Linked DNA regions of Homo sapiens: region 1 is linked to region 2. The links come from fine-mapping of genetic effects on gene expression. A gene starts in region 2. The other region holds a variant in brackets. All regions are shown on one strand. Distances are from middle to middle.

The links. PIP is the estimated chance that this variant, and not a neighbour inherited with it, causes the effect. A credible set is the group of variants that fine-mapping cannot tell apart.
Region 1: its variant is the best candidate, but not a certain one, in a credible set for the expression of SERPINI2 in nasal epithelium (TOPMed, PIP 0.77).

The regions. Positions count from the first base shown.
Region 1 is chr3:167,444,318-167,448,735 of GRCh38, reverse strand. It overlaps SERPINI2 (serpin family I member 2), which reads left to right. Exons shown (of 9, transcript NM_006217.6): 8 at 2,255-2,344. Among named protein-coding and RNA genes, the nearest start is that of SERPINI2, 28 kb to the left of the region's middle. The variant C/T (reference allele first, on the strand shown) is at 2,555.
Region 2 is chr3:167,472,103-167,476,519 of GRCh38, reverse strand. SERPINI2 (serpin family I member 2) reads left to right here and starts at 2,478. Exons shown (of 9, transcript NM_006217.6): 1 at 2,478-2,517. It overlaps LOC105374197 (a long non-coding RNA gene), which reads right to left. Exons shown (of 3, transcript XR_924683.3): 3 at 2,060-2,148.

The DNA.
Region 1 (4,418 bases), 28 kb after region 2:
CCTGGATAACACGGTGAAACCCCGTCTCTACTAAAAATACAAAAAATTAGCCGGGCGTGGTGGCGGATGCCTGTAGTCCCAGCTACTCGGGAGGCTGAGGCAGGAGAATGGCGTGAACCCAGGAGGCAGAGCTTGTAGTGAGCCTAGATCGCGCAACTGCACTCCAGCCTGGGCAACAGAGCGAGACTCCATCTCAAAACAAAGCAAAACAAAACAAAACAAAACTCCTATGCCCAGTCCACACCCCAAAATAATTATATCAGTATTTCTGGAAGTGAAATCCAGACTCCAAAATTTTCATAGGTTTTCCTAAGTGATATCAATGTGCATGGAAGAACCAGTGCTCCATAGTGCTTTGCAGCTTGCCTTTTTTATTACAAATGTAGTGCATAGACCAACAACAGCACCACTTGGGAACTCGTTAGAAATGCAAAATCTCAGATCCAAACCCTAGACCGACTGAATCAGAATCTGTATTTTGCAAGATCACTAGGAAATTTGTATGTACATTCTAGTTAGAGAACCACTCTTCTAGGCCATATTTCCTTGAACAAATGACATTTTAAATAGCATCTGTGCTGCATATAAATAATGCTTGAAAAATAATTAGAAAAAAGCCCTAAAATAATTATAAATGGACAAGCAACTTTAATGAATTCCTTGTAAGTCTATTTTAATTCCCCATACTATTTGGATTTTAATCAATATTTAAAAGCTATTTATCATTTCAATGTCTTACTGATAAATATATAAAAATTGATATTCATTTATTAATTTCTTGATTAATTTGCAATGCTGCATTGGGCCAATGGATTTTGACATCTGGATGAAACACACTGGACTCCCTTACAATTTTGTCATCTCCTGAAGGATCTTGCATTGCTGTGCTCAAGGAACTTGGATTGTAGGGGATGAACTATATTAATCTTTGAAGAAGTCAAAAGGTTATATTTGGATGAAATTGCTGGATCATGTAGACAAATTTTCCAGCTGCTTTCAAACAGTACTGAGAGAGTCCTTATAGATTATTGTTTGATCTCATTATATTGGTGAAGAAACAGGCCCAGCAATGTAAAGTGGCTTACCTGAGGCCATATTATTGATTGACAGCAGAATTTGAACGCAACTCATGTTCCCTGACTTTAAGTTCAGAGCTCTTTATGTTATTGCCCACTGTCTCTCATTTTAAGTCTAAAATTTTCTAGGATTCTGTAACAATCATTAAGAGAAGGTAGATGAATCAAAGTAAAACTCCTCAGAATAGTCAGTCTGGGTATTTTGACTTTCAGAAATCCACTCACGGACTGCTCAAAAGCAAAAAAAGTCCAAGTATTCACTGTAAATGGGAATGGGAGTAAAACTGATCTTGCTTTTGGATTTATCGTAGTAATTCAGACATGAGCCTATATTCACTGGTTATTTAGGTATACCCTTGATATTCTGGATAGGAGAGTGCCAATCATGTTATCATACTAAGATTATATTTGACTGTTTTATAATTCTAATGATACATAGTGATTTTATTTTTCCTGGGGTCTGAAAATAACAGTACAAAATAATTCAATTATTGGGAAATACAGTATCTGAATTAAGCATAAAACATTTAATCTAGATAGGAAAAATATCTAACTTTTTATATTTTCCTATTCTAAATATTGACAAATACTGTAATGGAGCAACATAATATAAATAATCATAGAAAGTAATTTTTAAGGCAGCAAATTTCTGCTTCAAATCTCATAATAAAAATCTCACACACATTCACTGCACAAATCCTAAAAGCTCTGAGCTCACAGAATAATTTTGAAAGAGTAAGTAAAAAAAAAAATTAATTTGAGCTCAGATGTGATTACCACAAACCCGAAGTGCAAATATACCTAAATAGGAATTAGGAATTACAAACATTGTAGAAATAAATCATATAATGCAAATAAAAAGTGAACAGAAAATTACTGTTTAAAAGATAAATTTTTTCAACTGCTTTCACTAAATTGAATCTGGTATCTGGCTTGCTTCTTCATTGAGCATACATATAAAGTTAGAATTATTCTGTGAGTGACCTAATATTTATTCTTCAGTACTTTGGTTTTTAAATTTATTGCAAATTCCTCTGTATTTAGAAAATGGTTATTTTTCCACATGTTAACTCCTTACACAAAATGACTTTTCCTGTCTACAAAATGTATTATGAATATACTTTCTTTACTGATCTTTTAATGCAAGTATCTAAATAACTGTTGTCTCTATTTTATAGGCATACACATCCCTGTGATCATGAGTCTGGCTCAAAGCCAATTTATAGCAAATCATCCATTTCTGTTTATTATGAAGCATAATCCAACAGGTACCTTTTTTGAGAATTATTTGGGGGAACTGATTATGTTAAGCAGAACTAGTTCCAGTTTCTAATTGCAATGTACATATCTGAAGTCATTTGTTCTTTCAGTGGATATTTGTTAAGTGCATTTTATATACCAGGAATTGTATTTTAAGAGATGACCGAGGCCTAAAATAGGGCAGTGGTAATAATGGCTGCCATCATGGCTACTATATG[C/T]GGTAGCCATTTCATATAACCATCAGTAAAGCTAAAACCACTCCAGAAGATTAGATATTTGACTAGTAAAGAACAAAAGCTCAGAGAAAGATTGTATGGTTTGTCTCAGGTTACGTAGCTAGAAAGTGTCAGAGTGGGAATAAAGGTCAACTGTCTGTGTATGATGCCACATTGGGGATGGAAATTGAGAGGTGTGGAGTTGTGAAAGAATTCAGAGGTGGATACCAAAACAGTAAGTGACTAATGTAGGTTCTGAGGGATAGGAAGGAGTCAAAGGTAATTTCAAATCTTCAACTTGGGCAACTGGTGAAAGATGATGCAGTTAGGTAAAGGGAGTGTAGAAGTAGTGGATTGGATTAGCACTGGGCACAGTGTCAACACAGGGAAATTCAGATTGTCTGGATGGATGCTTCAGCACTTTCTCTTGTGAGTAAGAGAAGCCAGAAATGTGAATACAGTGGGAAAATTGTCAAGTTTATGTTTAGGATCCTTCAGCAGTCATAATGCTCATGTGAGAGTTACATACCACAGGATAGTAGAAATTATATTTTACTCATCTCTGTATTCAGGCCAATATTTGGCAAAATGCCTTGCACATAGTATCAGTTTCCCTATAGACAGAGGGTGTGAAATTGGGTTGGGCTCAATTTCCAGCTGAATTCACTAACAGTTGTGAAACAAGTTGCTTGTCCTTTCTAAGCCACATTTTCCCTATATCTTATTTGAACATAATAGTAGTGCTCATCTCATAGAGTTAAATAAAAGAATTTTTGAAGCCTGTAACACTGTGCCTGGCACATACTAAGTGTTCATTATGAATAAATTAATAAATATGAATGAGGGAGTGAATAAAAGAAGAAAGGCAAGTGAAAAAGTTTAAAGTCATTTACAGGGAGAAGAGACATAGTTAATTGCAGAATCTGAATCTATTAGATGAACTAGCGATACTGATATTATTGGCCCAGTAAGGGATACTTCACTCTTTTTTGGCTCCATGAAACTAATGCTGAGAGACCCTTCTGAAAGTCATATCTTAAAAACAATGAAACAGTTTTAGAATTGATGAGATTGCATTAACACAACTTCAATTCTAGTAATGGCTGTGTCAGTGTTCAAATGTATTCTAAGTATGTCATTTGATCTATGTGTCTGTCTAACCTTTAGATAATTCTAATTTTTTACAATTAATATATAATTATGTAGTATGGAGACAGAAAGAAAAAAAGCTACATTGGGCATCAATGCACAAGTAAATAATGGCATTTAGAATAATTATGTTTTACTCTATTTTCCAGGTTGATGACTTGTTATATGCAAAGGCCAAGTAACAGCTATCAGTAAAACAGCAGCAAAAGTTCAAAACCCAAAATAACCCACTTATCTGTTTATTTGTGATAATGCTTAACTAGCAGGTCTTAATGACAGTTTGAACTGTTTTATGTTCTTTATTGTAGTGAGACTTTCTAAACTAGGGTTACTCCTTTAAAGTATTGTTTAAAATAAATGGCCGCTCATTTATCAGGGACTGTCCGTTGTTGCCATATAAAATGTAGAAAGGGCCGTTATCTTAAGACAATACATATTTAGTGATTTATCAATTTTTCTCTCACAAATGAACTCAAGAAATCATTGAGATTAATGAAGATAGTGATTTAGCATCACCATAGTGAACTATTAAATGGCTTCATGGTATACATAAAGTGTATTCTGTTGATGATTTCTGAAGTATGAGGATGAATGATTTTAGGTTTAGTACAATCAATTTTTACATAGCCTGGAAATTTTCTTTGATCCAAACAGTCCTTTTGTGCAAAATCTAGCCATTATTTGGATTTTCCTATCAGATGAATTTTATATTGCAGTA
Region 2 (4,417 bases):
ATGTGCATGGTATTATGCTGTAACTCTAATTCCATCCTTAATTAACATCAGGGCTTCTTCTGTAAAAGGAATTAAGAAGAGCTGTCTCATAAATATATTCAATGAGAAGAGAACTTTTAAAGGTATGAGACTTTCAAGGTAACTGTTTCTAATAATTTGGAGAAAAAACACAAAAAGAAGAAAAAAGACAATGTCTTTTTTTCTGTGTCTTACTCTTCTTTTGTAACTCACAGCATCTAATTTTCTAGGCAGGTAGCAGGATCTCACCTGTCAACTCTTAACAGAACTGAAGGCATTATAAACTGTTTCTGAAATTAACATTCAGATTCAATTACTTATGATCCATTTTTCTGTGGTAAAAGGAATTGGTCACATTAAAATAGGATATGTCATAATTTTCAATAGGCTACCTTGTTTGTATTACTTATATTTACACTAAATATAATTTAACATTTTCTTTTGTCAGAACATTTTCCTATTATCACTCAAAATTTAGGAACAATCTTACCAAAAAAAATTGCCTGAAATGAGTCCATGCTTAAATGGAAGAATTAACTTTTAAGTTCTTTACTGATGAGGGCATTTGCTTATACATTTTTAAAGTTTGGAATTAAGTGCACTTTTACTTGAAAAAACTATAAAAGGATAAGAAAATTGATGAGATGATAACTGTAACCCTTTGCTGTGGTTTTTATATATATTCCTAGGCTTATACTTTACAGTCGGACAGTAATGGCGATCAACCTTCTACCAAGACACGTTGGCTCTCATTAATGAATAATTCTCCCCCCACCCCGATTTTCTAGGAGCAAAATAGAATTGTAGAAAAAAGCGGTTTGGGAAAATATTTTAAAAATTTGTGGTAATATTTTATGGACAATTGTATTGTCGTCATTGTCTATTAAAAGAGGTTAAACCAGGGAGAATAAATTTATGGCTATTGCTTTTTACTCCTCAAGAGACAGGAAAATGAACATTCTGCCTGAACTGCTCTAATATAAGGTCCTTACAGAACAATTTCATTAAATGGTCTTAGTAGGACAGAGTGACGGTCTCTGCCATTGGTAGGAAAAGTAATGGACTATTTCTGGATAAATCACATTGTGATCTGAGCAGTGTACAGACATAATGATGTGGTAGCCAAGGGTACTGGTGATATATGTTTGCTGGTGTCAGTAAATGGGTAGAAAAGCATTGATTGAATGATAGTCTTGACATTCAGACTTAATATTTATGTATTGCAGTGTGAAGCAAGTAGAATGATAGTATTCTTGTATTGCACAACTCTTTTTGGAAAATTATCTCTGTGTTAAGTTAAAGCTACACTAGAGTGTGCTTATGATAGAGTAGGTAATATTAGAATAAAACTCAAGATCTAGAAAACATTTGGAGATGCCTATATGGGAAATCAAAAAATTTTAGTTAATTAGTAGATTATGGCCTATAATGATCTATTCTCAGGCCTATTTTTAAGTTATAGCCATGTTAGGACATGGAAAGATGTTAACAGGGTCCTCTGACAAGTTTTTAAAAATGAATTCCATTTAAAGCTATCTATATTCACTTTATTTCTTTTACATGAGTTTATCAGAAATAGTATTAAATTTGGGGATCAACAGATATTTAATTAAAAGTGAACTAAATTTTTTTTCTCTTCTCAAAGGCTATAGATAAATAATACAATGTGCTTAATATCTGATTGCCATTGAGGTGATTGATTTGAACTACAAAAATGAGATGAAACCCATTAAATTATGCAATTTTTTATTAATGACCTTTTTGCAAAGAAAATCATGTAGAGTTTCAAAAGCACATAAAGGTAACAGCAATTTTTATCATCCAATTACCTATGGCTAATAGTATTGTCCTGATATATTTTGGCAAATCCATTATCTTTTTTGCTGGCCTTTCTGCTCAGAATAAAGAACATATTTCTTCAATATCCACTCTTTTTCTTAAGGATTCAAATGGACCTTATATCCACAGGAAACTCCTCTGACTATTGTATAATTTGATGAATGTTGAGAACTCTGTCAATGCAGCAGTGATTTGTCTCTGTATTCTGGACTTGATTTAGCTTTATTCTTTTTCTCATAGGCATTCTGAAATATTTATGACAAAGTGCATTGGTAATCTGATGTAGGAGTCCTGTGAGAAACAAAAAGAACTAATTACTAGCAAATTTACAACCAGTAGCGCATCCTTTCAAATTCTGTGCAACTTTTAAAAGAAGCAAAATAATGGATAAAATAATAATATAAATTTAATACTTTTAAAAAATTCTATAATTGTTTTTTTCTCAATTCTTGCACATTTCATCAGTTGATCATTAACCCGATTGTGTTAGTTCTTAATACAAATGTAGTGAACACCTGCTTTTGTTCTAGAGGAATTAATCAAGCAATGGTCAAGATAAATGGAGTTGGCCTTGATCGCTCAGGTGTTTATGTACAAGAGTTTTCCAGCAAGCGTATTTTAGTTGTAACATTCCAGTGAATAATCAGAAGTCAGTTTGGGGTAAGTACCTTAGAAATAAATAGCTTTTGAATAAGTATGTATGCAATAACATTGCCTATGAATGTTTAGTAGAGTATGGAATGGCATTTCAATTTACTTTGGTGTAAAAATCATTTGAATTTATTTAATTAACATATCGCTTTTATTCTCCTTAAATGATTTCACCACAAATCAGAAGATCCAGTTCTTATAGGACTATTCATCAGGTTGTTTAGTTCAGCATTACTTTGTGCTTTCTGATAAGATATGATCCAAAACCTGATGAGGTAAGTGAGTTTTTAAAACCAATATTTGTCTGAGGTTATAATTTATTAAGTGCTTAGAAATTTTCTAGAAAAAATGGATGTGGATGCTCAAATAATATAAATTTAATTATTAAGATTATTAATAATAATGAGAAGGAAACTCTAATACTGAGATTCTACCACAAAGAAAAAAATTACATTTTTAATAATACTGTTCATTATTCCAATATAAACCAAATACATAAAGCTATATCTAATGTATTTCCAGTTGATAACTTAAAGGTACTAATAACATTTTGACTACGTATCTACAAACACATATTTTGGTCAGAAGTCTTCTGAGAAATTGAATATATTAGAAGATAATGATACACAGACATTTATTTTGCATGTAAAACTTCTCTTACTCACTGGTTTTTAACTATTGTTGCACTCTCATTTATAAGCTCATATGCTAAATTAATCCCTAATGAAACATTTGCTTGATATTAATAGCATATAGGTCTATATCTAAAGTTTACCAACACATTTTCTAACAATTGCTTTGGATTGTTTTTTGAGGCTTTTGTCTTTTGCAAATATATATCTAAACAAATACAGTTTAACAAAATACATTGAAGGATAAATAATGACTCCATAGTTTAATTTGGAACAATATTTGACTATTAGTAATCTTTATATATAAATATAGTTGTTCTTAGGGACTCCTACCATTTATGGTACCCTTAATGATCTGCAAAACACTCTAGAAATGTAAGTCTCTACTTAAGGCTGACAACAGACTATTCTAAAGGCTTTCATCTTTACCCCTAATTAAGGGTTACTTCCTAGTAACTTACTGATGGATAAGTTTTTAAGGATTACTAACATGTATTATTTATAAGGTAAAATTATTGTTACTAAAATTTATGAGGCCTTGGAGTCAACATTCTACCAAATATGTGGTAATATTGCAAAACTAATTCTGCTTGAGATATAATCAAATGGTTGAATTTCCTGCAATTTTAGTGGAGAGCACTTTAATAGGGTATTATTAGTCTTGTGAATTGTTTATGGTTTTTAATTGCTGCTACTCTTACATTTGTTAGTATTTCTGTCAATTCTTTGATATTATATTTCATTTTATTTATATTTTTTCTTTTATAATTTCAAGTTTTATTACAGATTAATGTACATGTGCAGGTTTGCTACATGGGTATATGGCCTGACACTAAGGTTTGGGGTATAAATGATCTCATCACCCAGGTAGTGAGCATAGTACTTTATTGTATCATTTATATTTGATTGCCATTTTGTTTCAAACTTTGCAGGTTTTCTGCATTGTATTTGTCTTCTTTTGGAAAAGCAGGAAGAGGGCTTTGGGTTATTTTGTCCTAAGAAATAAAGCGTGAGGAAAATTGTAAAAAGTTAGCCAGATTACTCAGTTGCTTTAGAATACATTAATTTTCTAATATTATAGGTCTAAAACCACACTGGAGTAAGTCTGTTTTTATTCCATTTCTTCCTCTTGATCTATAAATTACTGTAGAGTAGACAGCACAGAAGGTTTACCTGATGTCAGAGTTACAGTTATCCCACTTAACCATGAGAAAAGATAGAAAAAAACTATTGTATAACTATTTGGAGATACCATTGCCATTGATAACATTCCAACA